Linked DNA regions of Homo sapiens. The protein of the gene in region 7 purifies or fractionates together with the protein of the main gene of each other region. This does not show direct contact. Each region holds a gene or a part of one and is shown on either strand. Other genes may lie near its edges. The genes, in order: RSPRY1, MOB4, PMPCB, STRN, DMAC2L, PDP2 and SPINK2.

Evidence for each region.
Region 1: the proteins of SPINK2 (region 7) and RSPRY1 purify together in Homo sapiens (affinity purification with mass spectrometry; 2 studies listed by BioGRID and IntAct, with this or other methods). This does not show direct contact.
Region 2: the proteins of SPINK2 (region 7) and MOB4 purify together in Homo sapiens (affinity purification with mass spectrometry; 2 studies listed by BioGRID and IntAct, with this or other methods). This does not show direct contact.
Region 3: the proteins of SPINK2 (region 7) and PMPCB purify together in Homo sapiens (affinity purification with mass spectrometry; 2 studies listed by BioGRID and IntAct, with this or other methods). This does not show direct contact.
Region 4: the proteins of SPINK2 (region 7) and STRN purify together in Homo sapiens (affinity purification with mass spectrometry; 2 studies listed by BioGRID and IntAct, with this or other methods). This does not show direct contact.
Region 5: the proteins of SPINK2 (region 7) and DMAC2L purify together in Homo sapiens (affinity purification with mass spectrometry; 2 studies listed by BioGRID and IntAct, with this or other methods). This does not show direct contact.
Region 6: the proteins of SPINK2 (region 7) and PDP2 purify together in Homo sapiens (affinity purification with mass spectrometry; 2 studies listed by BioGRID and IntAct, with this or other methods). This does not show direct contact.

Annotation. Positions count from the first base shown.
Region 1 is NC_000016.10:57,210,329-57,213,828, forward strand, and holds part of RSPRY1 (RING finger and SPRY domain-containing protein 1 isoform 1 precursor), read left to right. Parts: intron 1-2,643; coding exon 2,644-2,770; intron 2,771-3,500.
Region 2 is NC_000002.12:197,533,066-197,536,565, reverse strand, and holds part of MOB4 (MOB-like protein phocein), read right to left. Parts: intron 1,037-3,500; coding exon 936-1,036; intron 1-935. Other genes in the region: HSPE1-MOB4 protein, read right to left, coding at 936-1,036.
Region 3 is NC_000007.14:103,300,435-103,303,934, reverse strand, and holds part of PMPCB (mitochondrial-processing peptidase subunit beta isoform 1 precursor), read right to left. Parts: intron 94-3,500; coding exon 1-93. UniProt on the Homo sapiens protein: Catalytic subunit of the essential mitochondrial processing protease (MPP), which cleaves the mitochondrial sequence off newly imported precursors proteins. Preferentially, cleaves after an arginine at position P2.
Region 4 is NC_000002.12:36,844,537-36,848,036, forward strand, and holds part of STRN (striatin), read right to left. Parts: 3' UTR 1-3,500. UniProt on the Homo sapiens protein: Calmodulin-binding scaffolding protein which is the center of the striatin-interacting phosphatase and kinase (STRIPAK) complexes.
Region 5 is NC_000014.9:50,315,324-50,318,823, reverse strand, and holds part of DMAC2L (ATP synthase subunit s, mitochondrial isoform a precursor), read right to left. Parts: intron 1-3,500. UniProt on the Homo sapiens protein: Involved in regulation of mitochondrial membrane ATP synthase. Necessary for H(+) conduction of ATP synthase. Facilitates energy-driven catalysis of ATP synthesis by blocking a proton leak through an alternative proton exit pathway.
Region 6 is NC_000016.10:66,883,515-66,887,014, forward strand, and holds part of PDP2 ([Pyruvate dehydrogenase [acetyl-transferring]]-phosphatase 2, mitochondrial precursor), read left to right. Parts: intron 1-716; 5' UTR 717-770; coding exon 771-2,360; 3' UTR 2,361-3,500. UniProt on the Homo sapiens protein: Mitochondrial enzyme that catalyzes the dephosphorylation and concomitant reactivation of the alpha subunit of the E1 component of the pyruvate dehydrogenase complex (PDC), thereby stimulating the conversion of pyruvate into acetyl-CoA.
Region 7 is NC_000004.12:56,818,902-56,822,988, reverse strand, and holds the start of SPINK2 (serine protease inhibitor Kazal-type 2 isoform 1 precursor), read left to right. Parts: upstream 1-1,287; 5' UTR 1,288-1,326; coding exon 1,327-1,531; exon of another isoform or gene 1,532-1,669; intron 1,670-2,409; coding exon 2,410-2,453; intron 2,454-4,087. UniProt on the Homo sapiens protein: As a strong inhibitor of acrosin, it is required for normal spermiogenesis. It probably hinders premature activation of proacrosin and other proteases, thus preventing the cascade of events leading to spermiogenesis defects.

The DNA.
Region 1 (3,500 bases), on a different chromosome or scaffold from region 7:
CTTGGCTTCTCAAAGTGTTGGGATTATACGTGTAAGCCACTGTGCCCAGCCTAGGTTAAAATTTTTTAAATGTTAAAAATAGAAGCATTTAAGGCTGGGCGCGGTGGTTCACGCCTGTAATCCTAGCACTTTGGGAGGCTGAGGTGGGTGGATCACCTGAGGTCAGGAGTTCGAGACCAGCCTGAACAGCATGGTGAAACCCCGTCTCTACTAAAATACCCCGTCTCTACTAAAAATCAGCCGGGAGTGGTGGCAGGCACCTGTAATCCCAGTACTCAGGAGGCTGAGGCACGAGAATTGTTTGAACCTGGGAGGCAATGGTTGCAGTGAGCTGAGATTGTGCTACTGCACTCCAGCCTGGGCGACAAAGCGAAACTCTGTCTCAAAAAAAAAAAAAGAAGCATTTAGGTTGGGCGCAGTGGCTCACACTTGTAATCTCAACACTTTGGGAGGCCAAAGCAGGCAGATTGTTTGAGTCCAGGAGTTCAAGACCAGCCTGGCAACATGGTGAAACCCTGTTTCTACAAAAAAATCCAAAAGTTAACAGGGTAACGTGGTGCATGCCTATAGTCCCAGCTGCTCAGGAGGCTGAGGTGGGAGGATCACTTGCAATCTGGAGGTCGAGATTGCAGTGAGACAAGATGGCGTTATTGCACTCCAGCCTGGTTAAAAAAAGAAGTATTTGTATCTCAGGTGGCGATCTTTATTCAGAAGCTAGAAGAGAATGTTGAGTTGCTTCGCTGATTTTCTTATCTTTCTCTAAGCAATTTCCTCATAACAAAAGTTTTAAGAATGTTTTTTATTAAGAGGAAAAACTGGGCTGAATGTACTGGCTCATGCCTGTGATCCCTGCACTTTGGGAGACCAAGGCAGGAGGATCAGTTAAGCTCAGGAGTTTGATACCAGCCTGAACAACATAGTGAGACCTTGTCTCTGTTAAAAAAAAAAAAAAAAAAGAAAGCCAGGCACGGTGGCTCATGCCTGTAATCCCAACACTTTGGGAGGCCAAGGCAGACAGATCACTTGAGGTCAGGAGTTCAAGACCAGCCTGGCCAACATGGTGAAACCTCATCTCTACTAAAAATACAAAAATTAGCCAGCACGATGGCGTGCACCTGTAATCCCAGCTACTTAGGAGGCTGAGGCAGGAGAATCACTTGAACTCGGAAGGTGGAGGCTGCAGTGAGCTGAGATTGCACCACTGCACTTCAGCCTGGGCGACAGAGTGAGACTCCATCTCAACAACAACAACAAAAAAAAGTTAAAACTGAAAGCACTTTTGAATCTTACTCAAATGTATTAATGATTAGTGTAACATTGGTTATCCTTTACATAGAACAAAAGCATCGAACTTTCATTGCTTTCCCATGTGTTTTACAGAGTCCTTTTTTTTTTTCTTTTTTTCTTCTTTTGGATTCTGGCATCTTTCATTTTTAAGATGGAGTCTTGCTATGTTGCCCAGACTGGTCTCAAACTCCTGGGCTCAAGCATCCTCCCACCTTGGCCTCCCAAAGTGCTGGGATTACAGGCATGAGCCACTGTGCCCAGCCTCAATTCTGGCATTTTCATTCATCTGTTTAAGCCCAGTGCAGAAAAACATTGTGGACGGAAGGGGAAAGTCTTTAGCGTAGTCACCAATGAATTGACCTTTGCCTAGGCTTATAAGAGCTGCCTGTTTCAATTTGCCTTCAACTCTGTTGGGGCAGGGTGCAGTGGTTCATGCCTATAATCCCAAAACTTTTGGGGGCTGAAGCAGGAGGATCACTTAAGGCCAGGAGTTCAAGACCAGCCTGGGCAACATAATGAGATTCCCATCTCTACAGAAAATTAAAATTATCTGGGCACTGTGACATGTGCCGGTAGTCCCAGCTACGAGGGAGGCTGAAGTGGGAGGATCACTTGAGCCCAGGAGGTAAAGGCTACAGTGAGCCATGATCACTTCACTGCACAGCAGCCTGGGAAACAGAGCAAGAGCAAAAAGAAAAGAAGAAAACTCTGCTGGGATTTGTTTTTGCTTAGTAAAACTTTTTTTAAAGTAACTTTTTACTTCAACATCACCAGCCTTTAATGTTTTCATAATGGCATCTGAGTGGGTTTAATCTGTTTAGTGATTCAAGAATATGTAGCATATATTTGATACAACTTAAGCATTCTGAATGAAGTGGAATCTAGTAAGTCATGTAAGGAGACTTTCAGGTTGATCAGATATTTCCCATCAATGATATCATTAGGGTACATTGCATAATTTTTATATGGTCATTCTGAGTTTATTTAACACCTGGTTATAGCTCCCCCCACCCCCCTGAGACGGAGCCTTGCTCTGTCGTCCAGGCTGGAGTGCAGTGGCACGATCTCGGCTCACTGCAACCTCTACCTCCCAGGTTCAAGTGATTCTCCTGCCTAAGCCTCCTGAGTAGCTGGGATTACAGGCGCGCACCACCACACCTGGCTAATTTTTGTATTCTTAGTAGAGATGGGGTTTCACCATGTTGGCCAGGCTGGTGTCGAACTCTTGACCTTGTGGTCCGCCCGCCTCGGCCTCCCAAAGTGCTGGTTATAGCTTTTGTCTCAAAAAAAAAATGAGCCTGGGAAAACAACCTGTGTAGTATATGGGTCAAACCCACTTGTACTTTTTTGTTTTAGGATGCACTCCAGAAATTGACTGAAATTCTCAATTTAAATGGAGAAGTAGCTTGCCAGGACTCAAGCCATCCTGCCAAACACAGGAACACATCTGCAGTCCTAGGCTGCTTGGCCGAGAAACTAGCAGGTAACTTTGGGACACTCCACAGTGGAAGATCTTAAGTTGTTTGACATTAAAGGGAAATTTGTACTGTATGTCTTTGATCAAACTGCTATACCAGAAAGAAATCTCTTAAAAATGATATTGAGAGACATAGACTAACTGGAAGAAAATTACTGAAAGGCTACAGAGGTGAATGCAATTTAATTTAGCTTTGTGGATTTTCAGGGGAAATTTTAAAAGAAAAAAGTTGTGCTTATTTGCTTTAAGAATAAGGAGCGAGGAAAAGAAAAAAGGGAGAAAAGCTAAATTCAGCATAACAAAGATATGTATGTGTGTATACAATATATAATTTGCATATATACACACTTTATAAAGTTTAGCTCGATTATGAAGACATACAAGGTAGAGGGAGAGGAAAAGGAACTTCTGGTTGGAGCAGTTCCTGAGAAGCAGGTATTTAATTTGTTTATGAATGTTACCCATTTTAAGAAAGTTAACAGCAAAGTACAGGGGCATAGCTCAGCTACTTACATCACGTAATGTGGAAGAAACAATGGATTAGAAATCAGAACATGTGGCTACTGGTTTGGACTCTCCCATGTGCTTGCCAAGTGCCCTGGAGTTAGTTGCTTAATTCTGTGGGCTCACTTGCTTAACTGTGAAATGGAGCTAGTACTATTTTCTACCTCAGAGCAGGAGGCTTTAATAAGATAATGTGCATGAAAGAGTTCTACCAAAACAATTTGATTGTTAC
Region 2 (3,500 bases), on a different chromosome or scaffold from region 7:
GGGAAACGGAAATACTATATTAGCGGTTAAGAGATACAATTAAGGAAAATCATGAAATAAGAATAAAACCCAGGCTGGCATGGTGGTAATCCCAGCACTGTGGGAGGCCAAGGTGGGTGGATTGCTTAAGCCCCGGAGTTTGAGACCAGCCTAGGCAACATGGTGAAACCTTGTCTCTACAAAAAATACAAAAAACTAGCCAGGCTTAGAGGCATGCACTAGTAGTCCCAGCTACTCAGGAGGCTGAGGTGGGAGGATTGCTTCAGCATGGGAGACAGAGGCTGCAATGCGCCAAGATTGCACCACTGCATTCCAGCCTAGGCAACAGATCAAGACCCTGTTTCAAAAAAAAGGCGGGGATAATAAGGCCCAAATGAATAAATGTAGAAAGGGTGGCTCAATACTTTGGGAGGACAAGGTAGGAAAATTGCTTGAATCCAGGAGTTTGAGACTAGCCTGGGCAACACAATCAGATCCTGTCTCTACAAAAAATTAAAAAATTAGTGAGGCATGCTGGCACACACCTGTAGTCCCAGCTACTCTGGAAGCTGAAGTGGGAGGATCACTTGAGCCTAAGAGGTAGAGGCACAGTAAGCAGTGATTACACCACTGCACTCCAACGTGGGCAAGAGAGTGAGACCCCATCTCAAAAAAAAAAAAAAAAAAGAAAAGAAAAGAAGAGAGGTGCAGAGGCAGGTCCAAATTATCAACTCTGAAATAAACCACCTTTCAAAATGAGTGACTCTGCAGCATAATTTGACCTGGAAACAACCAGTGAAGAAAGCTGAGAACCTTGTGACACTGAAAATGCCAAAGCTTTAAAATTTGGCTTCTTAGTCTGCAGTTACATAGTAAATTTTACAATTCATAATTATCATTAATATGAAAGCTAGTTTTGTGAGAGGTACTATTAGTATTTTGATGTAAGGTCCTACCTTAAATGTTCATACTTCCACACACCTTCATCTTGGCCTTCAGGTGGTTCAAGAATTTTGTCAATATTGGAGCAATCTGCTCTTATGTTCTGTTGAATATACTAAAAACAAAGAAGTTCTTATGGTTAATTAAATTATATCACCTGGTAAATCTTATGTTAAGTACATATAATTTGTTAATACATAACTGCTCTTGTGGTTCAACTTGGGTTATACACTAAATAGGAAACCAAGTATAGAATCATAATCAGTAACTAAGAAAAAAAGTAGGTTACCCTTACTTATTTATCCTTCAATTCAACTTCATTTGGATAGAATCTACTACATAAATGCAGATATTGTATTTGTCAGGACTGGAACTTGGATCAAAATTGCAAACCATAATTTCTTTTTTTTTTTTTTTTTTTTGAAACAGGGTCTCACTGCATCACCCAGGCTGGAGTACAGTGGCACAATCTCAGATCACTGCAATATCCACCTCCTGGGCTCAAGCAATCCTCCCACCTCAGCCTCCTGAGGAGCTGGGACTACAGGCACACGCCATCACGCCGGGCTAACTTTTCCATATTTTGTAGATACAGGATTTCACCATAGGCAATGTAAATATAACTATGGTACATATTGTGATTTGGTTTATATGAAGTGTCTAGAGTAAGAAAATCTATTGAGACAGGAAATAGATTTGTACTGGTGTAGGGCTTGAGGGCAGAGAGGAAGGCAGAAGAGACTGAAGATGGCTGCTAATGAGGGTGAGGTTTCCTTTCAGGAAGGATAAATATGTTCTAAAAGGCCGGGCGTCGGGGCTCATGCCTGTAATCCCAGCACTTTGGGAGGCCGAGGTGGGCAGATCACAAGGTCAGAAAATCGAGACCATCCTGGCTAATATAGTGAAACCCAATCTCTACTAAAAATACAAAAAAATTAGCCAGGCGTGGTGGCACACACCTGTAGTCCCAGCTACTCTGGAGGCTGAGGCAAGAGAATCGCTTGGACCCGGGAGGCGGAGGTTGCAGTGAACCAAGATCGTGCCACTGCACTCCAGCCTGGGCAACACAGTGAGACTCCATCTCAAAAACAAAACAACAACAAAAAAGCTTTAAAATTAGACTGTAGTGATGGCTGTGCAACCCTGTGAATATAATCACTCTAACTGTATAGGGATTTGTATGGTATGTTCATTAGATCCAATAAAAGTTGTTTTAAATGACTAACAGAAAAAACTAAGTTTAAAAAAAAAGGCAAGGGAGGGTCACTTTCAATTTTTAAAATGTAATAACATAAAAATTTAAATTTCAGATCTCTGTAATGCTTTATGCAATCTTTTTGATATTCTGAAGTCTAAATACGTTAGAACAGATTAAAAGGGTGGTTACAAAAACTTACTAACTATAAGGCCTTCTTGAGCCAATCAATTTTGCCTACTTCAGACAATCTTTCTTGAATATCACTTGCTTACTCAAAAACTTTTTTTTCCAAACAAAAGGTCTCACATATTTAGTACTGAACCAGCCTACTGCAGAGCATAGAAACCAAAAGAAAAACCATTGTTCCAATACAGCATGTACAACTGTCCAGATGATGGTGACATTTTCAGCTTGATATGGTGACATGATAGTGACCTTGATGCAATATTAAGTATGTGTGCCATCTCATGTAAAATTCCTTCTAGACCCAGCTTGGTTCTTTTCCAATGTCTCCTCTTAGAGTTGTACCTGATTTTATTACTCAGTTTTCATCTGAATCCACTGGGGAATGGGACGATTTTGCTTTTGTTTCTTGGCCAGGAATCACTTGATTCTAAAAGTCTTAAAGTCTTGTGGGAAGGCATGGCAAAGAACTGAGTCACACGCACACACCATGATGACAGGGAAAGGGATCAAATACTTTTTTTTTTTTTTTTTTTTTTTTGAGGAGTTTTGCTCCTGTCGCCCAGGCTGGAGTGCAATGGCTCAGTCTTGGCTCACTGCAACCTCCGCCTGCCGGGTTCAAGCGATTCTCCTGCCTCAGCCTCCCGAGTAGCTGGGAATACAAGCACCTGCCATCACGCCCGGCTAATTTTTGTATTTTTTGTAGAGACAGGGTTTCGCCATGTTAGTAAGGCTGGTCTCAAACTCCTGACCTCAGCTGATCCACCCGCCTCGGCCTCCCGAAGTGCTGGGATTACAGGCATGAGCCACCGTACCCAGCCTCAAACACTTTTTAATGACTCTTTAATTACTATTGAAACCACTCTCCCTGATTTTTTTTATCTCATCCTAATGTTTCAAAGTTTTGATTCTCTCTCTCCTTGAGGAGATACAGCTAAATTGTATACCTTCTCCAAAGGCCACCTCAAATTCCACATCACAATTCTGTCCAAATCTCTCGTTCCCCCAACACACTCAAGCACTCCCTGATTATTCGAATCCTCACAGAACTCCATCCAATTTCCTGCCACATTTGTAATTTGTATATATTAGCAATCTGTCTATTCATTTTTGTCTTTCCTGTTCCCACTACACCTTCTATGGATAGAAATTTTTTTTTGTTTTTGAGATAGAGTCTCACTCTGTCGCCCAGGCTGGA
Region 3 (3,500 bases), on a different chromosome or scaffold from region 7:
CCTGCATCTCTCTAAGGATTACTCCACGCTCACGTTCAATCTCTGCTTCTCCCAATGTGCTGTTTTGTATTATATCAGCAAGAATTTCTACAGCTAATTGAAAATAAAATATAAGAAAACGTGCCAGCAATCTTAACTTTCACTATTAAAATCTATTAAACCAAAATCAGAAATCATGACACTGACCCATCACTCAATACTAAATGATTAGCCTAGGAGAAAAACATCAGATATACTTAACAGGACAAAATTAAAATTTAACATATAAACCCCTATAGTACAAAAGATTTTTTCCTTGGGGAAAAAGTATAAATTTGCCATCACCTTGTAATGACTCTACCTACTTAAAAAATGCTATGGAAATTTGCATATTAATATAGATTGTTCTATATGAAAATTACAAAGTTATATATATTAGTCTGAAAATACCTAGCTAGCAATGTACAGAGGGTTTGTATCACCCAAGTATTTACTATGCAAGTTCCCACAGCAATGACAGTGCTATGTTAAGAAGCAAAGAACTGGTCAGGCACCGTGGCTCACACCTATATAATCCCAGCACTTTGGGAGGCTAATATGGGCTTCAGCCCAGGAGTTCCAGACCAACCTGGGGAACATGCCAAAATCCTGTCTCTACAAAAAATACAAAAATTAGCTTCGTGTGGTGGCATGTGCCCGTAGTCCCTGCTACTCGGGAGGCTGAGATGGGAGGATGGGTGGAGCTCGGGAGGCAAAGATTGCAGTGAGCTGCGATTGCACCACTGCACTCTCGCCTGGGCAACAGAGAAAAGAATCCTTACAATCTAAAATATGCCCCAAATGAATCACAGAATTGTGTGTTCTCAAACCCTAATTTGCAAAAAGCCAAAAGTGAAGTGGAACATGTTATATTAGGCCATTAAGCAATTTTATCAGAAAAAGCGCATACCTCTCCAAAAAAAAAACTGTGCTTCATTCTTGAAGAATTAGTACATAGTTGCAATCATAAATCTAAATTTCATTAATACGATTAATGTTATAAAATAAACTTACAATCTTAAGTTTCTTTTTTTTCCCCTAAGAGACAAGGTCTCATTATGCTGCCCAGACTGGACTCAAAATTCCTGGGCTCAAACAATCCTCCTGCCTCAGCTTCCTCCAAGTAGCCAAGACTAAAGGCATGTACTACCGTGTCTGGTTTAGGTTTCATTTTTTACTCTACTACAAACTGTTGTTGCTTGTTTTAATTAAGTTCACTTTAAGGGGCACTGTCTCAGAACTGATTATGTTCAAATACTAAGAACATGACAGAACAAACTATTATAGTAAGCTGTGGCTGAGATCATGACCAAAAGGAAAAAATTATCTGTAAAACCAAATAAAACCCATCTGTCCAGATAAGAGAACAGAGTCCAGTAAAATGGGTGAGAAAGAGCCCATAGACAAATGGAAGGACAAGAATTCCTGTGTGAAAATCCTCCTTTATGTGGGATTGGTGGTCTACCCTGGTAGTTTCCAAAGGCAGGGAGGGGGGCTCCTATTTCCCAGTCTGTTTTAATCTGAATCTTTTTTTTAAATGTGTATTTAATATATGTTAGTATAGTAGCACATGTATTTAACTTACAAGTATACATACATTAAGGATATATGATCAACTTTCTTACCAATAAGAGTAAGTGATCATCATGCACACGTATGTTTACTGCAGCACTATTCACAATAGCAAAGACTTGGAACCAACCCAAATGTCCATCAATGATAGACTGGATTAAGAAAATGTGGCACATATACACCATGGAATACTATGCATCCATAAAAAAGGATGAGTTCATGTCCTTTGTAGGGACATGGATGAAGCTGGAAACCATCATTCTGAGCAAACTATCACAAGGACAAAAAACCAAACACCGCATGTTCTCACTTATAGGTGGGAATTGAACAATGAGAACACTTGGACACGAGGTGGGAACATCACACACCGGAGCCTGTCGTGGGGTGGTGGGAGCAGGGAGGGATAGCGTTAGGAGATATACCTAATGTAAATGACGAGTTAACGGGTGCAGCACACCAACACGGCACATGAATACATATGTAACAAACCTGCACGTTGTACACATGTACCCTAGAACTTAAAGTATAATAATAAAAAATAAAAATTAAAAAAAAAGAATAAGTGATCATAAAAACCTGGAGACCATTAGTCTAAACATCTAATTATTACTTCATATACCAGGCTTCACACCCAGGGTGAAGGGTGAAAAACCCCAAGTAAATCCCCAAAGTTGGAGCTGCTTCAGAGAGCACTTCCATTTTGCATTCCTCAGGGAAAGCCCCTGTTTTTCCACTCCCACTAGCAGAAGCTCTGTCGTTCCCAGCTAGATGCCAGGAGAAAAGGGGGAAAAAAGTCGTTTAATTTCATCCTTCCTTTTTCTGTTTCTCCTTTTTGCCTTCCCTGTTGTTCTGTGTAAATAAAGGAAGGAACTAGGCTGGAATGAACAACTCTTTAAAGAACCTTGGCCTAGCCATATGTTCTTGGTCCCTAATTAGTCCTGGGACAAAAACTGTCTCTATTGGTTTTGTTATTCAAACCAACATACCCTCCATCGTTGCTGTCATTTTTGTTTTAATGCAAAAGTTAGGGTATCATATTAAGTATTTTAGTTATTTACAAGTGATAGGTTTCTTATTTTATTGTTTTGACAAAGCAAATGAATCTGGTAAGAAGACACGCACTTGAGTCCACAGTAAGCCACCTGATAGCTATGCAATCCTGGGCAAGTCAGAGTCTGAGCTTCAATTTCCACAACTGCAAGGTGGAAACACCTATGCACATCAAATGGATAATATATACACAAAAGTACTTGTGTTAAGTGCCATTTAAACATTATTAATGAAAGTCTATTAGGAATCCAAAATTGCAAAGTAGTAACTACAACTACAGAAGGACCTTAAAGGTTAAAAATTTCACTAATGGCCGTGCACAGTGGCTCACGCCTATAATCCCAGCACTTTGGGAGGCCGAGGCAGGTGGGTCACTTGAGGTCAGGAGTTTAAGTCCAGCCTGGCCAACATGGTAGAACCCATCTCTACTAAAAATATAAAAACTAGCCAGCTATGGTGGCAGGAGCCTATAATCCCAGCTACTCAGGAGGCTGAGGCAGGAGAATCACTTGAACCCAGGAGGCAGAGGTTGCAGCGAGCCGAGATCACACCACTGCACTCCAGCCTAGGTGACAGAGCGAGACTATCTCTCTAAACAAAAATAATGAGTTTACCAATTAGCTCTAAAACTGCTAAATTTTGTTGTTAATTCTTCCACTGGGAAATGTTTTGTGTAATAACTTTTAAGAGAGTCAAAACAGTCTACAAACATGGTAACTAACAAACTGCTGTCCTGACAAAATATTTTATTCCCACCAAATAATCTCTATTTTATTGCTACATATTAAGAAAAACCATCATCCATAATTTACTATTTGTCATATTTAGAAAAAAAATAAGATCAGCTGTACCCTCACCCA
Region 4 (3,500 bases), on a different chromosome or scaffold from region 7:
CATGTGGTCCTGGTTAAATTAAATCTAAAGCTTGGATTAGCAAAGATCCAGAAAATTCTGACCCCCTAAGCACCACTTTAGGAATACCGCCAGAATCAATGAGTGGGATCTAGGGATCTGTTTGGCCTAACATTTGTTTTTTTTAGAATTAAAAAAACAAAACAAAAACTGAAAGGATCTGTTAAATACTTTGTCAACCTGGCATCCCTGACACTGACATGAAGATCCAGTTGGATGATGGATATTGCCAATTAAAAAGTTTGTAGTGGCAAAAGTAAAAATGATTCAAATTGACGAATGACCTGTCCTTTGTTTTTAAACACAGATACGTTTTTCTGGGCCTTTCTCTAAAATGAACTTTAGGGCTTGATACATTTCACAAAAATATACATATTTTTCGTCAGCTACTACTTTGTATACAACCTGAATCCCAGTGTCCAACACTTAAAAGTACTGCAATTATATAAATTACTAAACAAGTTAACAGTAATGGAGAGGCAACTTCTGAGTAAATAAAATGAATGATTATGTACTTAATAGCCTTGTAGTCACTTTCAAAGAATAAAGTAATCTAAATAAAATTATACTTAGCACTCTTTTTCATGTAAGTTCAATAATTATTTGGCTATTGGTTGAAAACATCACACAGACAGACACCAACCAAAGATTCATTATCTCCACTCGCTAAAAACATTGATGGTTAATTTTAAGCAATTCTTTCAAAGAAAAACAAAATTAATTCTAAGCCTTTCAGTCTGATTTGTGACATCTTAATACAATATAACTTAAATGACAAAGCCTGAGAAAAGCACCAACATAGATTTTTTTTTAATTGCATCCAACCATCATTTCAGATGTCATAAAGATTTGCTTCAGTTAAAATGGCAGCAATGACAAAGAGGTAGATATGAGAGATGCTTTTTAAATATTTTAAGACTATTCTTAGGTGGAATTTTAACTAGTTCAGGTATTTAACCTAAAAATATTTACTAGTTGAATCTTTACCACATAAGAACTTCATGACATGCTGTTTTGTAAGAGGGAAATATATGAAGTATTAAAAAGTGAGCCTTTAAAAAATTACATTTACTTAGCCAACATTAATGAGATCCCATAATTTTGGTGAACAAATAATTTCTCCTTCTACCTGAACTTTACTATAATTAAAGAATAGCTATTGTTTTCTCTACTGAAATTTCTAGGAATTCACATTCAAAATTCTTGGAAAGTATATATGGTGCTCAGAAGAGCACAAAGCGCATGAAATGTCCCCTGAAGTCCTAGAAGTTGAGCAGATACATTAAAAAGACATTGATGGTCACAAATCAGGACCTTCACAGATTGGTAAACACACACACACACACACACACGCATGCATGCACACACACACACACACACACACACACACACACACACTAACTCTCTCTCTCTCTCTGTGCCCCCCCTCCCACCCCCTCCCCAAACTCAATCTTCATCCTCACTGTAAGGCTGCATTTTTTTTTTTAAAGGCACCTCTCATTTTCTAGCTATTGCCTTCTTGATGATATTTGTTTTTGTTAAAAAGTCTGAATGTTCAATGGAAATAGTTCAGTACTGAGAATAAAATATTTTTCAATTCACATTTGAATAGCCAGGTTTTCTTACATTCAGATTTTAATACACTAGAATGACAGTCTTTAAAACAAGCATGCTAGCCTATAATGAATATTGTATATACAGTAATTTAAACACTTAGAACTATATATTATACTGCAAAAGCAAACAGCACAACACTCATCATACTCATCATTATCTGCTGTGTATACTACCTCCAAAAATGAAAATACAAAACAGTAAAATGCACCTATGGTTTATATATATATATATATATATATATATATATATATATATATAGTTTATATATTATATATATTCTTACAATATATATAATATATATTTATAAAATATACATACATTTTAGACATTTTCAAATAAATCTTCATCATTATCTCCAAAAGAAATTTATAGCAAGAATACTGAAGGAATGAAAGTCAGATTAAAAAAAAAATTTCTCACAAAGTTCATCATCAGTGATGCAGCTCAATTTCCCCCGTTTTAGTCATAACTAAAATGATTATAAAAGCGAAATATTTTGCATAACTAAGTATTTGTTTAATGGCAAAAGTTGTTAAACTTGTTCAATAGAAAAATACTGAAGGTCATTATATCACTTTTGTTAAATAATCTGTCTATGGTTTGAGTAGCAAATGAGCTCCATATGACAGTTGAGTTTTGAGAAGGGTGCTGCAAGCTCCCAGAGATGTATCCACAGCATATGAAAATAAGGCAGGGATCCAAACCTCCCGCTAATTTTCATACTATTCCAATACATTTCAAACAAAATATTTACAAATGAAGCACTATGAAAGCATTTCAATGGCTGTTTAAACATTGAATTTGTTCATTCTGTGAATTTTCATTGAATGTTCAACAGGCTAGGGGAAAAGTCAGACACATGTATATGCTACTCTGGTTGGAAGACAGCTTTGGCTCATTTCTAGGCTGAGATCATGCAGTGCTGGTAGAGAAGACTCTCTCCGTAGTCTCCAATGCCACAGCACTGGCTTTCTAAGGAACTTTCAACAGTTCCATTTGCGCTACAGTCTATGTATCTCATGGTTATTTTCCACTCACTGACAGAAAAATTTCAACCATGAAGCATAAAATGAACGGGGGAAGAATGTCCTGGTTTTTAGAATTTCAGTGACATTAATAAAGCAGTAACTGAAGATCTTAGAAGGTAATTAATAACTGGTAGAACAATAGCTTTGTGGTCATCCATCATAAATACACCAAGTAATGGCATCTTCCTTCCTTCCTTCCTGGAAGGAATTTTCCAGTATCCTTCTACAAATGTTAGGTTAGAAACATTCTTTCTTCACTGTGAAGAACCAAAAGAAATTTACTGAACACAATATGGAATTCTGTATCTGCATGGAAATATTAAGTATTCACCTGACAGCTCATGTTTAGGTCAATTCATTTAATTACACAAAGCAGTCTCTTGAGCCTGCTTGTTAACCAAAGCACAAAGATGAAATGAAAAGGTAGCTGTATTACTACAGCATATCTGTATGAAAATCAGGCAAATTTAGCACAAGTCTCTAGCTTTAAAGAAAATTTGCCTGTATAATGCAGAATTCTAGAGGCAAACAGGCAGAAATTTTACAGAAATATTTGTCAATCATTAGCCACACCACCACCAGAATACTTTTTCAAGGAGTAGATGTACGTATCATGAGAAGCATCATTGTTATGACGATGGAAAATGTGGGGAATGGAATATGTAGAAATTGTTTTAATTGGTTAAAATATCTATAGATTTAATATTTTTAAAATCTAAGAGCCTATTTATATGTTTTTTGGTGGAAAGTTGGACGTTAATAATTTATTTCCAATTTCTAGATTGGTCTCTGTCATTTGGGACAAAGAGTAAGAGAGACATAAACCACTATAGAAAT
Region 5 (3,500 bases), on a different chromosome or scaffold from region 7:
AGGTGTGAACAAATACCATGAGAATCTAGAGAAGGGAGTGAGAAGAAGGCCTTCACACTAGAGGTGTCTTTTGAAATGGGTCTTAATGATTAAGAGTTTTCAGTTAGTCTAGAAGCAGAAGCAGAATATGAAAAAAAAAATTCCAGTTAGAACGAAAAAAGAGTATGCAAAGTAAAAGAACAAGGATGGCATCTTATTCATTTCCATTTTTCTCAGCATAATGCAAAAGTTTAATAAATATTTGTTTATTAATAGTCTTCAACGGTTGACATGTTTCCATGGAGAAAGGTAAAACCAGTTAAACTGTTATTAAGCAGGTGAATTAGAGTGGTCTTTGAAAACTGAATATTTTTGCTTGATTCATTTTGGCCCATCTTATAATTTAGCTTAAACGAAAGGCCAAATTTACTTAGGCTGTAATCTCTAAAAACACAAGATATTAGATTTAAAATGTTTTAAACATAAAAATTAAATTTATATTTGGCAATAGAGGTAACAAAAATTGGTAGGTTTTTACATTTCAACTGCAACTTTGCTAATGATTTTGCAAATTATTCCTACTTGAGTCCAAACAGTTGCCTTTGGGAACGCTTTCTATAGGGAAAGAGGAGACCTCTAGTGGGAAGTTAGTGAATCTAGCTCTAATAAATTAAAAGAACCCAGTTAAACGCAAATTAGAAAATAACCACTACTAAATTACTGCTGCCATAGATAATCCACCATGATTGAGTTTCATACAGGGATGCACAAATGGCTTAACATACACAAGTCAATAAATGTTATATGCCACATAAACACAATTAAAAACAAAAATCACATGATCATCTCAATAGATGCAGAAAAAGCATTTGACAAAATCCAGCATCCCTTTGTGATTAAAATCCTCCGCAAAATTGGCATACAAGGGACATACCTCAAAGTAATAAATGCCATCTATGACAAACCCACAGCCAACATAATATGAACGGGGAAAGTTTAAAGCATTCCCTCCAAGAATTGGAACAAGATAAGGATGCCGACTCTCACCACCACCACCCCCCTTTTTTTTTTTTGGAGATAGTGTTTCACTCTTGTTGCCCAGACTGGAGTGCAATGGCATGACCTCAGCTCACTGCAACCTCTGCCTCCTGGGTTCAAGCGATTGTCCTGCCTCAGCCTTCCAAGTAGCTGGGATTACAGGCGCCCACCACCACGTCCGGCTAATTTTTTGTATTTTTAGTAGAGATGGGGTTTCACCATGTTGGCCAGGCTGGTCTTGAACTCCTGACCTCAGGTGATCCACCCGCCTTGGCCTCCCAAAGTGCTGGGATTACAGGCATAAGCCACGGCACCCAGCCCCACTCTCATCACTTCTATTCAACATAGTACTGGAAGTTCTAGCTAGAGCAATCAGACAAGAGAAAGAAATAAAAGGCATCCAAATCGGTAAAGAGGAAGTCAAACTTGCTATTTGCTAATGATATGATTGTATGCCTAGAAAACCCTAAAGACTCCTCCAAAAAGCTCCTAGAACCAATAAATGAATTCAGCAAAGTTTCAGAATACAAAATTAATGACATAATTAGTACCTTTAGTATACACCAACAGTGACCAAGCTGAGAATCAAACCAAGAACTCAACCCCTTTTATAATAGCCACACACACAAAAAAAACTTAGGAATATGCCTAACCAAGGAGGTGAATGACCTCTAAAAGGAAAACTACAAAACACTGCTGAAAGAAATAACAGATGACATAAACAAATGGAAACACATCCCATGCTCATGGATGGATAGAGTCAACATTGTGAAAATGATCATACTGCCAAAAGCAATCTACAAATTGCTTCAAGTTCATTGCAGATTCTGGATATTAGTCTTCCCATCAATACAATTCCCATAAAAATACCATCATTCTTCAGAGAACTAGAAAAAACAATCCTAAAATTCATATAGAACCAAAAAAGAGCCCACATAGCCAAAGCAAGACTAAGCAAAAAGATAAATCTGGAGGCACAACATTACCTGATTTCAAACTATACCATAAGGCCATAGTCACCAAAACAGCATGGTACTGGTATAAAAATAGGCACATACACCAATGGAACAAAACAGAGAACCTAGAAAGAAACCCAAATACTTATAGCCAACTGATCTTCAACAAAACAAACAAACATATAAAGTGGGGAAAGGACATCCTATTCAACACATGGTACTAGGATAACTGGCAAGCCACATGTAGGAGAATGAAACTGGATCCTCATCTCTCACCTTATACAAAAATCAACTCAAGATGGATCAGGGACTTACATCTAAGACCTGAAACTATAAAAATTCTAGAAGATAACATCAGAAAAACCCTTCTAGACATTGGCTTAGGCAAGGGTTTCATGACCAAGAACCCAAAAGCAAATGCAATAAAAACAAAGATAAATAGTTGGGACTAAAGAGCTTTTGCGTGGCAAAAGGAACAGTCAGCAGAGTAAACAGACAACCCACATAGTGGGAGAAAATCTTCACAATCTATACATCTGACAGAAGACTAACATCTAGAATCTACAATGAACTCAAACAAATTAGCAGAAAAAAACAATCCCATCAAAAAGTGGGCTAAGGACATGAAGACAATTCTCAAAAGAAGATATATGAATGGCCAAGAAATATATGAAAAAATGCTCAACATCACTAATCATCAGGAAAATGCAAATCAAAACCACAATGTGATACCACCTTACTCCCCGCAAGAATGGCCATAATCAAAAAATTAAAAAAAAATAGATGTTGGCGTGGATATGGTGTAAAGGGAACACTTCTACACTGCTGGTGGGAATGTAAACTAGTACAACCACTATGGAAAACAGTGTGGAGATTCCTTAAATAACTAAAATTAGAACTACCATTTGATCGAGCAATTCCACTACTGGGTAGCTACCCAGAGGAAAGGAAGTCATTATACAAAAAAGATACTTGCACACGCATGTTTATAGCAGCACAATTTGCAATTGCAAAAAATGTGGAACCAACCCAAATGCCCATCAATCAATGAGTGGATAAAGAAGCTGTGGTATATATATATGATGGAATACTAGTTAGCCATAAAAGGGAATGAATTAATGGCATTCGCAGCAACCTGAATAGGATTGGAATTTATTACTCTTTTTTTTTTTTTTTTTTTTTTTTTTTGTGAAACAGAATCTTGCTCTGTCGCCAGGCTGGAGTGCAGTGGCGCAGTCTCAGCTCACTGCAACCTCCGCCTCCCAGGTTCAAGTGATTCCCCTGCCTCAGCCTCCCAAGTAGCTGGGATTACAGGCATATGCCACCACGCCCAGCTAATTTTTTGTATTTTAGTAGAGATGGGGTTTCACCATGTTGACCAAGATGGTCTCAATCTCCTGACCTCGTGATCCACCTGCCTTGGCCTCCCAAAGTGCTGGGATTACAGGCGTGAGCCACTGCACCTGGCCTGGAGTTTATTATTCTAAGTGAAGTAACTCAGGAATGGAAAACCAAACATCGTATGTT
Region 6 (3,500 bases), on a different chromosome or scaffold from region 7:
TGCAGCCTCAACTTACCAGGCTCAGATGATTCTCCTACCTCAGCCTCCCAAGTAGCTGTGACTATAGATACACACCACCATGCCTGGCAATTTTTTTATTTTTTTTATTTTTTTGGAGAGACAGGGTTTCACCATGTTGCCCAGGCTAGTCTCGAACTCCTGGGCTCAAGCTATCCACCCACCTTGGCCTCCCAAAGTGCTAGGATTACAGGCATGAGCCACCAGGCCTGGCCCCCGAAGCAGATATTTAAATGAACACTTATAGTCTGCTGGTGAGAGTGAGTTTAGTGTATTTTAAATAGTTTATTCTAAGTCATTTTTGTTCAGGATATTAGCAAATGTTTTCAGAAGTCAGTATTTTTAAGAAATTAAATTTGTGGCTGGGTGCTTTGGCTCACGCCTGTAATCCCAGCACTTTGGGAGGCCGAGGCAGGTGGATCACAAGGTCAGGAGATCGAGACCATCCTGGCTAACATGGTGAAACCCTGTCTCTACTAAACATACAAAAAATTGGCCAGGTGTGGTGGCGGGCGCCTGTAGTCCCAGCTACTCCAGAGTCTGAGGTAGGAGAATGGCATGAACCTGGGAGGCGGAGCTTGCAGTGAGCAGAGATCACACCACTGCACTCCAGCCTGGGCGGCAGAGCGAGACTACGTCTCAAAAAAAAAAAAAAAAAAAAGAAATTAAATTTGAAACTTCAACTTTTTAATTTTTAGGTTTAAAAATATCCTTTTTTGCTGAAGGAACACATTTGCTGGTATAGTTTCAGAATGTCAAGTACTGTGTCCTACTGGATCTTAAATTCTACAAGGAACAGCATTGCCACATTGCAAGGGGGTAGACGCTTATACTCCAGGTATGTCTCAAATAGGAATAAATTAAAATGGAGGCTCTTTTCCCGGGTGCCACCCACCCTAAACAGTTCCCCATGTGGTGGCTTTACTCTGTGCAAAGCCTACAGACACACATCAACAGAGGAAGATGATTTTCACTTGCAACTCAGCCCTGAGCAGATAAATGAAGTGCTTCGAGCTGGCGAGACAACCCACAAGATTCTTGACCTTGAAAGCAGAGTCCCAAATTCAGTGTTGCGGTTTGAGAGCAACCAGCTGGCTGCCAATTCCCCAGTGGAGGACCGGCGAGGTGTAGCCTCCTGCCTGCAAACCAATGGACTGATGTTTGGCATCTTCGATGGACATGGTGGTCATGCATGTGCCCAAGCAGTGAGCGAGAGGCTCTTCTACTATGTGGCAGTGTCCCTGATGTCCCACCAGACCCTGGAGCACATGGAGGGAGCTATGGAAAGCATGAAACCCTTGCTGCCCATCCTGCATTGGCTCAAGCACCCAGGGGACAGTATCTACAAGGATGTCACATCTGTGCATCTTGACCACCTCCGTGTCTATTGGCAGGAACTGCTTGATTTGCACATGGAAATGGGACTAAGCATTGAAGAAGCATTAATGTACTCCTTCCAGAGACTGGATTCTGACATCTCGCTGGAAATCCAGGCCCCCCTGGAAGATGAGGTGACAAGGAACCTGTCACTCCAGGTTGCTTTCTCTGGGGCAACAGCTTGCATGGCCCATGTTGATGGAATTCACTTGCACGTGGCAAATGCTGGTGACTGCCGAGCCATCCTTGGTGTCCAAGAGGACAATGGCATGTGGTCTTGTCTGCCCCTTACACGTGACCACAATGCCTGGAACCAGGCCGAGCTGTCCCGGCTAAAGAGGGAGCACCCTGAGTCAGAGGACAGGACGATCATCATGGAGGACAGGCTACTGGGCGTCCTCATCCCCTGCAGGGCCTTTGGGGATGTTCAGCTGAAGTGGAGTAAAGAGTTGCAGCGCAGCATTCTGGAGAGGGGCTTCAATACCGAGGCCCTCAACATTTACCAGTTCACACCCCCACACTACTACACTCCACCCTACCTGACTGCTGAGCCTGAGGTCACATACCACAGGCTGAGGCCCCAGGATAAGTTCCTTGTGCTGGCCTCAGATGGCCTGTGGGACATGCTGAGCAATGAGGACGTGGTAAGGCTGGTGGTGGGGCACCTGGCTGAGGCAGATTGGCACAAGACAGACCTGGCCCAGAGACCCGCCAACTTGGGGCTCATGCAGAGCCTGCTGCTGCAGAGGAAAGCCAGCGGGCTCCACGAGGCTGACCAAAATGCAGCCACGCGGCTGATCAGACATGCCATCGGGAACAATGAGTATGGGGAGATGGAGGCAGAGCGGCTGGCGGCGATGCTGACATTGCCAGAGGACTTGGCGAGGATGTACAGGGATGATATCACTGTCACTGTGGTGTATTTTAACTCAGAATCAATCGGTGCATATTACAAGGGGGGTTAAGAATCTCCCATCCTATTGTCAAGGTTAACATAAATGCTCTTCTAAAATGTTTCACTTACTCCTAAACTAGCTATCCAAACCTTACTATTAAAAGCGCAGGCAGATTTAATTTGCTAAATAGACTAACAGGAGGAAAAAAACAAACAGCCTAGCTTTAAAAAACAGTGAAATAGCAGTGATTTCATGTCCCTGTATGTTCTGATTAAGTCTTATATGCAGAGAGGACAGAGCATAAAGTCTATAGAATTGGCTTGGGCTTGTGTAGCCCCAGTCATTTGATAAAGATGTTGTTAAACTGTGTCAGCCTGAGCCTTCAAAGGGTAAATTTAATCATGATTCTGAGAATAAAGAACTTCAGGAGCTTCTTAGGTCTTGCCACAAAAATCTGCAAATTTGATAATTCTCCTGAATTCACAATCATGGACTTGTAGACTATGAAGAGATATTTTATTTGTTTGTCTTTTATTTAAATTACTAAGGTCTAGGTTTACAAAGCATACTACAGGACCCTTTTCTATGCAATATCCTAACTTTTTTTTTTGTGATTATGCTTGTGAGAAATTTTGTAATACTACATTCTAGTTCTGTTTTCGTTTATTTTAAAACTGAATCCTTAAACTTGCAAACACGCCTACTGTAAGCATGCTTGGAATGACTTGTTTTGGTTTTCAGCTGATAGGATCTATGCCTCTGGACCAGCTGAACTTACTGGTGCAGCTTTTTGTGCCCTCTACTGAGTCCCATTCCAGAAACTTTGAGCCATGCTAGGAGGTAACTAGTCTATGCCTTAACTCCTGACCTTTCCTGCATTAGTAAAATTTCCTCCTGGGCTGAGCCTTTGGGGGTTGATTCACAGCATTTAAGCTTTCTGATTATACCTCTCAAACATTCTTCTGTCAATTCCACACAATCCTTCTACCTCTGCTATGCTGAACCCCTCATTCACCCTGCACCTGCCAACTGCAAAATATTGTCTGAAAGAATCTTTCACATGTTCCTGCTTCCTATGGCTGCAGGAAAGGAGAAAATGTGATTGCATGTGGTAGTTGTGGTGATAGACGTTTAGACAGGACAGGTTAATTTAGCGGATTGTGGACTTAAGATTCAACCTCTATCTGGAGAGGTGAAAACACAAAGGCT
Region 7 (4,087 bases):
TCTCAAACTCTTGAGCTCAAGTGATCCACCAGGCTCAGCCTCCCAAAGTGCTGGGATTAGAGGCGTGAGCCACCACGCCTGGCCTTAATGCACTAACTTGCTCAGCCTCTTTGGCAAAAATTATTTCTCACAGAAGTAATGAGTAGAACAGTAGTTACTAGAGGCTGGGAAGGATAGGGGGATAGGGAGAGGTTGGTTAAAGTATACAAAATTACAGCTAGGTAGAAAGGATAAGTGCTAGTGTTTCATAGCATTGTAGGGTGCCGACAATTAACAATAATATATTATAAAGGTCGAGCACGGTGGCTCAAGCCTGTAATCCCAGCACTTTGGGAGGCCAAGGTGGGCGGATTGCTTGAGCCCAGGAGTTTGAGAGTAGCCTGGGCAACATGGTGAGAACCCCTCTCTACAAAAAATGCAAAAATTAGCTTGGCATGGTGGCATATATCTGTGGTCCCAGCTACTTGGGAGGGAGGCTGAGGTGGGAGGATCACTGGAACCTGGGAGGTGGAGGTTGCAGTGAGCTGAGATCGTGCCACTGCACTCCAGCCTGGGTAAAAGAGCGAGACCCTGTCTGAAATTTAAATAATAATAATAATTTATTATGTATTTTCAAGTAGCTAGATGAGAGGATTTTGAATGTTCTCAACACAAAGTAATGATAAATGTTTGAGGTGATGAATATGCTAATTATCCTATTTTGATCACTACACATTGTATGTATCCAAATATCACTATGTACCCCCATAAATATGTACAATCATTATGTGTCAACTCAAATAGTTAAAAAATATATTAAAAGAGGGAAAGGCAGAACGCTTCCTGAGAGCAAGGACCTCCTTTGTCGAGGTCAGGGCTGTGTCTTCAGCAACGAAACACTATCTGGGACTTAGTACATGCTTAAGAAATAGGTGTTGATTGACAGAGCTCCCAAGAGCTCCACAAGGGTCCCCCTAGGACTGTCACAGGTTCTTGTATGTCGGAGGGAGAGGTCTTCCCCTTCGTCTCCTTGGGGGGAGGGGAAGGTGTTGGGGAACAACTGCCCCTTCCTCTATCTCCCTCGCCCCTCCTTCCCCATGGCCCCCTCCCCCGTCCTTCTACCTTTCTCCTTCCCAGCCCTTTCCGGTTCTCCCCCGACCCTTCACGGCTCCTCTTCCCGCCGCTCCTCTTCCCGCCGCCCCTCTTCCCTCGCCACCTACCGCTGCTTTTCCTCCCATTCTCGCCCCGCCCCTTCCCCCGCCCTCCCCGCGCCCCGTCGCACGAGCGCTCCCTGCGAGTGGCGCAGGTAACAGACCGCAGGGGCAAGACAGCCGGCGCGGGAGGAGGATGGCGCTGTCGGTGCTGCGCTTGGCGCTGCTGCTCCTGGCAGTTACCTTCGCAGGTAGCGCTCGGAGCGGTCCTGGCGAGCGGGGACCTCCGGAGAAAAGCGGGTTTGGGAGTCAGACCGGCGGCGGACCCTGCCCTGCTCCGGGCGGCCTCGGCGACGGTACCCGCGCGCCCGTTACTGGCGGTTCCCCAGAGGACCTGCCAGGTGGAGGAACGCGAACTGGGGGTTGTGGGGGTGGCTTTGTGGAGTCAGCCACCCTCTTTAGTTCTTGCTTGGGCTTCGCTCCCAGCTCTAAGGACACCTGCCATCTAGAGCGCTTTCTCTGTTAAAGTAGATTTTCAGGTGCCCAAGATGAGGAGTTGAGTTTTTATGTATGGTCCCAAGGGAGGAGATGTGCAGGAATGAGGAATTGTGGATGCTTACGAGAAAGGGGCTTTAGTCCAACCACACTGGACACCTCTCTTAAAATGGAGTTAAAATGCTCACATCTTATATTAAATTTTGTATTTGTTACCCCGAGTTGTAAAGGAAAATAACATCATGAACTATTAATTAAGGGTTACTTCCTTGGCCAGGTGTAGTGGCTTGGGCCGGTAGTCCCAGTTACTCCGGAGGTTGAGGCGGGAGGCTCGCTTGAGACCAGGAATTGAAGCTGCAGTGCGCTAGCGCGACTTTTATTCCATAGCTTCAAAGTCCTTTCTCAACCAACCCTAATGGGAACAGAACCAAATGTTATTTCTATGTGCTTTTGGGGAGAGGTGCCATAAAAAACTGAATATCCTTTCTGGGGGAAGTGGGATGGGGACAGTTTAAAGAAGGTAGGCATTAGAGGGGAAAATAGAAGATGTGGCCTGGATAAATCCCAAACTGGATTTTAAAACATCCTTATGAAGCTGGATGTGGTGGCTAATGCCTCAAATTCCAGCACTTTGGGAGGCCTAGGCAGGAAGATCGCTTAAGCCCGGGAGGTCAAGACCAGCCTGGGCAACATAGCAAGACTTCATTTAAAAAAAAAAAAAACTTCATGAACAATACCTTACCTTGATCCTATACTGTAAAATGTCTATGCTTTCTTCTTACAGCCTCTCTGATCCCTCAATTTGGTCTGTTTTCAAAATATAGAACGGTAAGTAGCAAACCACTTCTACTGTTTCTACTAATACAGTGAAGCCCAAAACCGTTTGGGAGGGAGGCTGGCTTTCAGGTCTGACCTGCCACTTTTGAAACCATTGAGGACTGCGTTTAAAACCAGGTTGTCAGGCAGGCCTTTTGATTCAGATAAAAGTGTAAGTTTTAGTTGAAAACAGCTCAGTCTTTGTGTTAATATTTCCTTTAAAGATTCAAAAGGTCCTTAGAAAAAGTTATGCCTTGTACTAGATATTTTATGTACTTTATCAAATTAAATTCTGAGGATGTAAATGGAGACCAACCAAATGAGAACAAGCAAAGGCTATGTTTTTCAGGGCTTGTTATAGCAAGAGAGTCAGCCACTGTCACTTGCATTTGAGTAGGGACTCGAGTCAAAGAGAGGAGTGGGAAAACTATAGTGGAAAAAAGGAATGGCTTCAGGTATGGCCTGATTGGAGGCTGTTGGCACAGGGAAGCTGTAGGTGAGCTAACTAGAAGCACAACATTCTATGGTATGGGTTAGGGGTGTGTATTTGGTTTTCTCTGGTTGTCCTAAGTTGGAATCAAGGACAGAAATTACGGAAGCTGTCAGTTAGTAATCAAATCCTAACCATTTTGCAGCTGGGCGCAGTGACTCACGCCTGTAATCCCAGTGCTTTGGGAGGCCGAGGTGGGCAGATCACGAGGTCAGGAAATCAAGACCATGCTGGCTAACATGGTGAAACCCCGTCTGTACTAAAAATACAAAAAATTAGCCAGGCATCATGGCACGTGCCTGTAATCCCACCTACTGGGAAGGCTGAGGCAGGAGAATCACTTGAACCTGGGAGGCAAAGGTTGCAGTGAGCTGAGTTCATGCCACTGCACTCCAGCCCAGACAACAGAGTGAGACTTCATCTCAAAAAAAAAAAAAAAGAAAGAAAAAAAAGTCCTAGCCATTTTGGGCTGATTGTTAAAGGGGTTATTGTTTTGCTTCCTGGACTGTCACTAGAGATAGCAGTCTGATTTCCTTCAAGTCTGGCTTATAGCCGGCTGGCCTCCTGGCCTGGTTATTCTAAATAATGGTTTGGGTTCCTGGACAGGATGCTGCAGGTTGTGGGTCAGAGTTCTGTTTTATATAAGGACTAGTCATTGTCTGTATATTTGGTCTCTCAATTCTCACAATGATGTTGTAAGATAGACATTATTTGACATATGAGGATATTGACTTCAGCAGGTTAACTTTGAGCATTCAGCTCAGAGTAGGCTTCTTCCAGGAAGCCTTCCCACGCGATTCCCTTCCTCTAGAGATGTAGATATGTATACACACACACTTTCTCTGTGCTTACCTATACTGCATCATCATCACCATCATAATAATAAATACTTAGATACCTACATGCCACACCAGTGTTCTAAATGCTTCATATATAATAACTAATTTCATCTTTCACAGTACTGTGAGGTAGGGATCATTATTTCATTATTATCCCCTTGGCCAAGGTCACATGGAAGTGGTGGAGCTATGCTTCTCATCCAGGCAGTCTGACTCCAGATCCAGTGCTTTTCTCTACCCTGTCACAACATTAGGTTGTAATTGCCTGTTTGCCTACGTCCTCCAGGAAACTGTATGCATGTTGTCAGGTATAATGT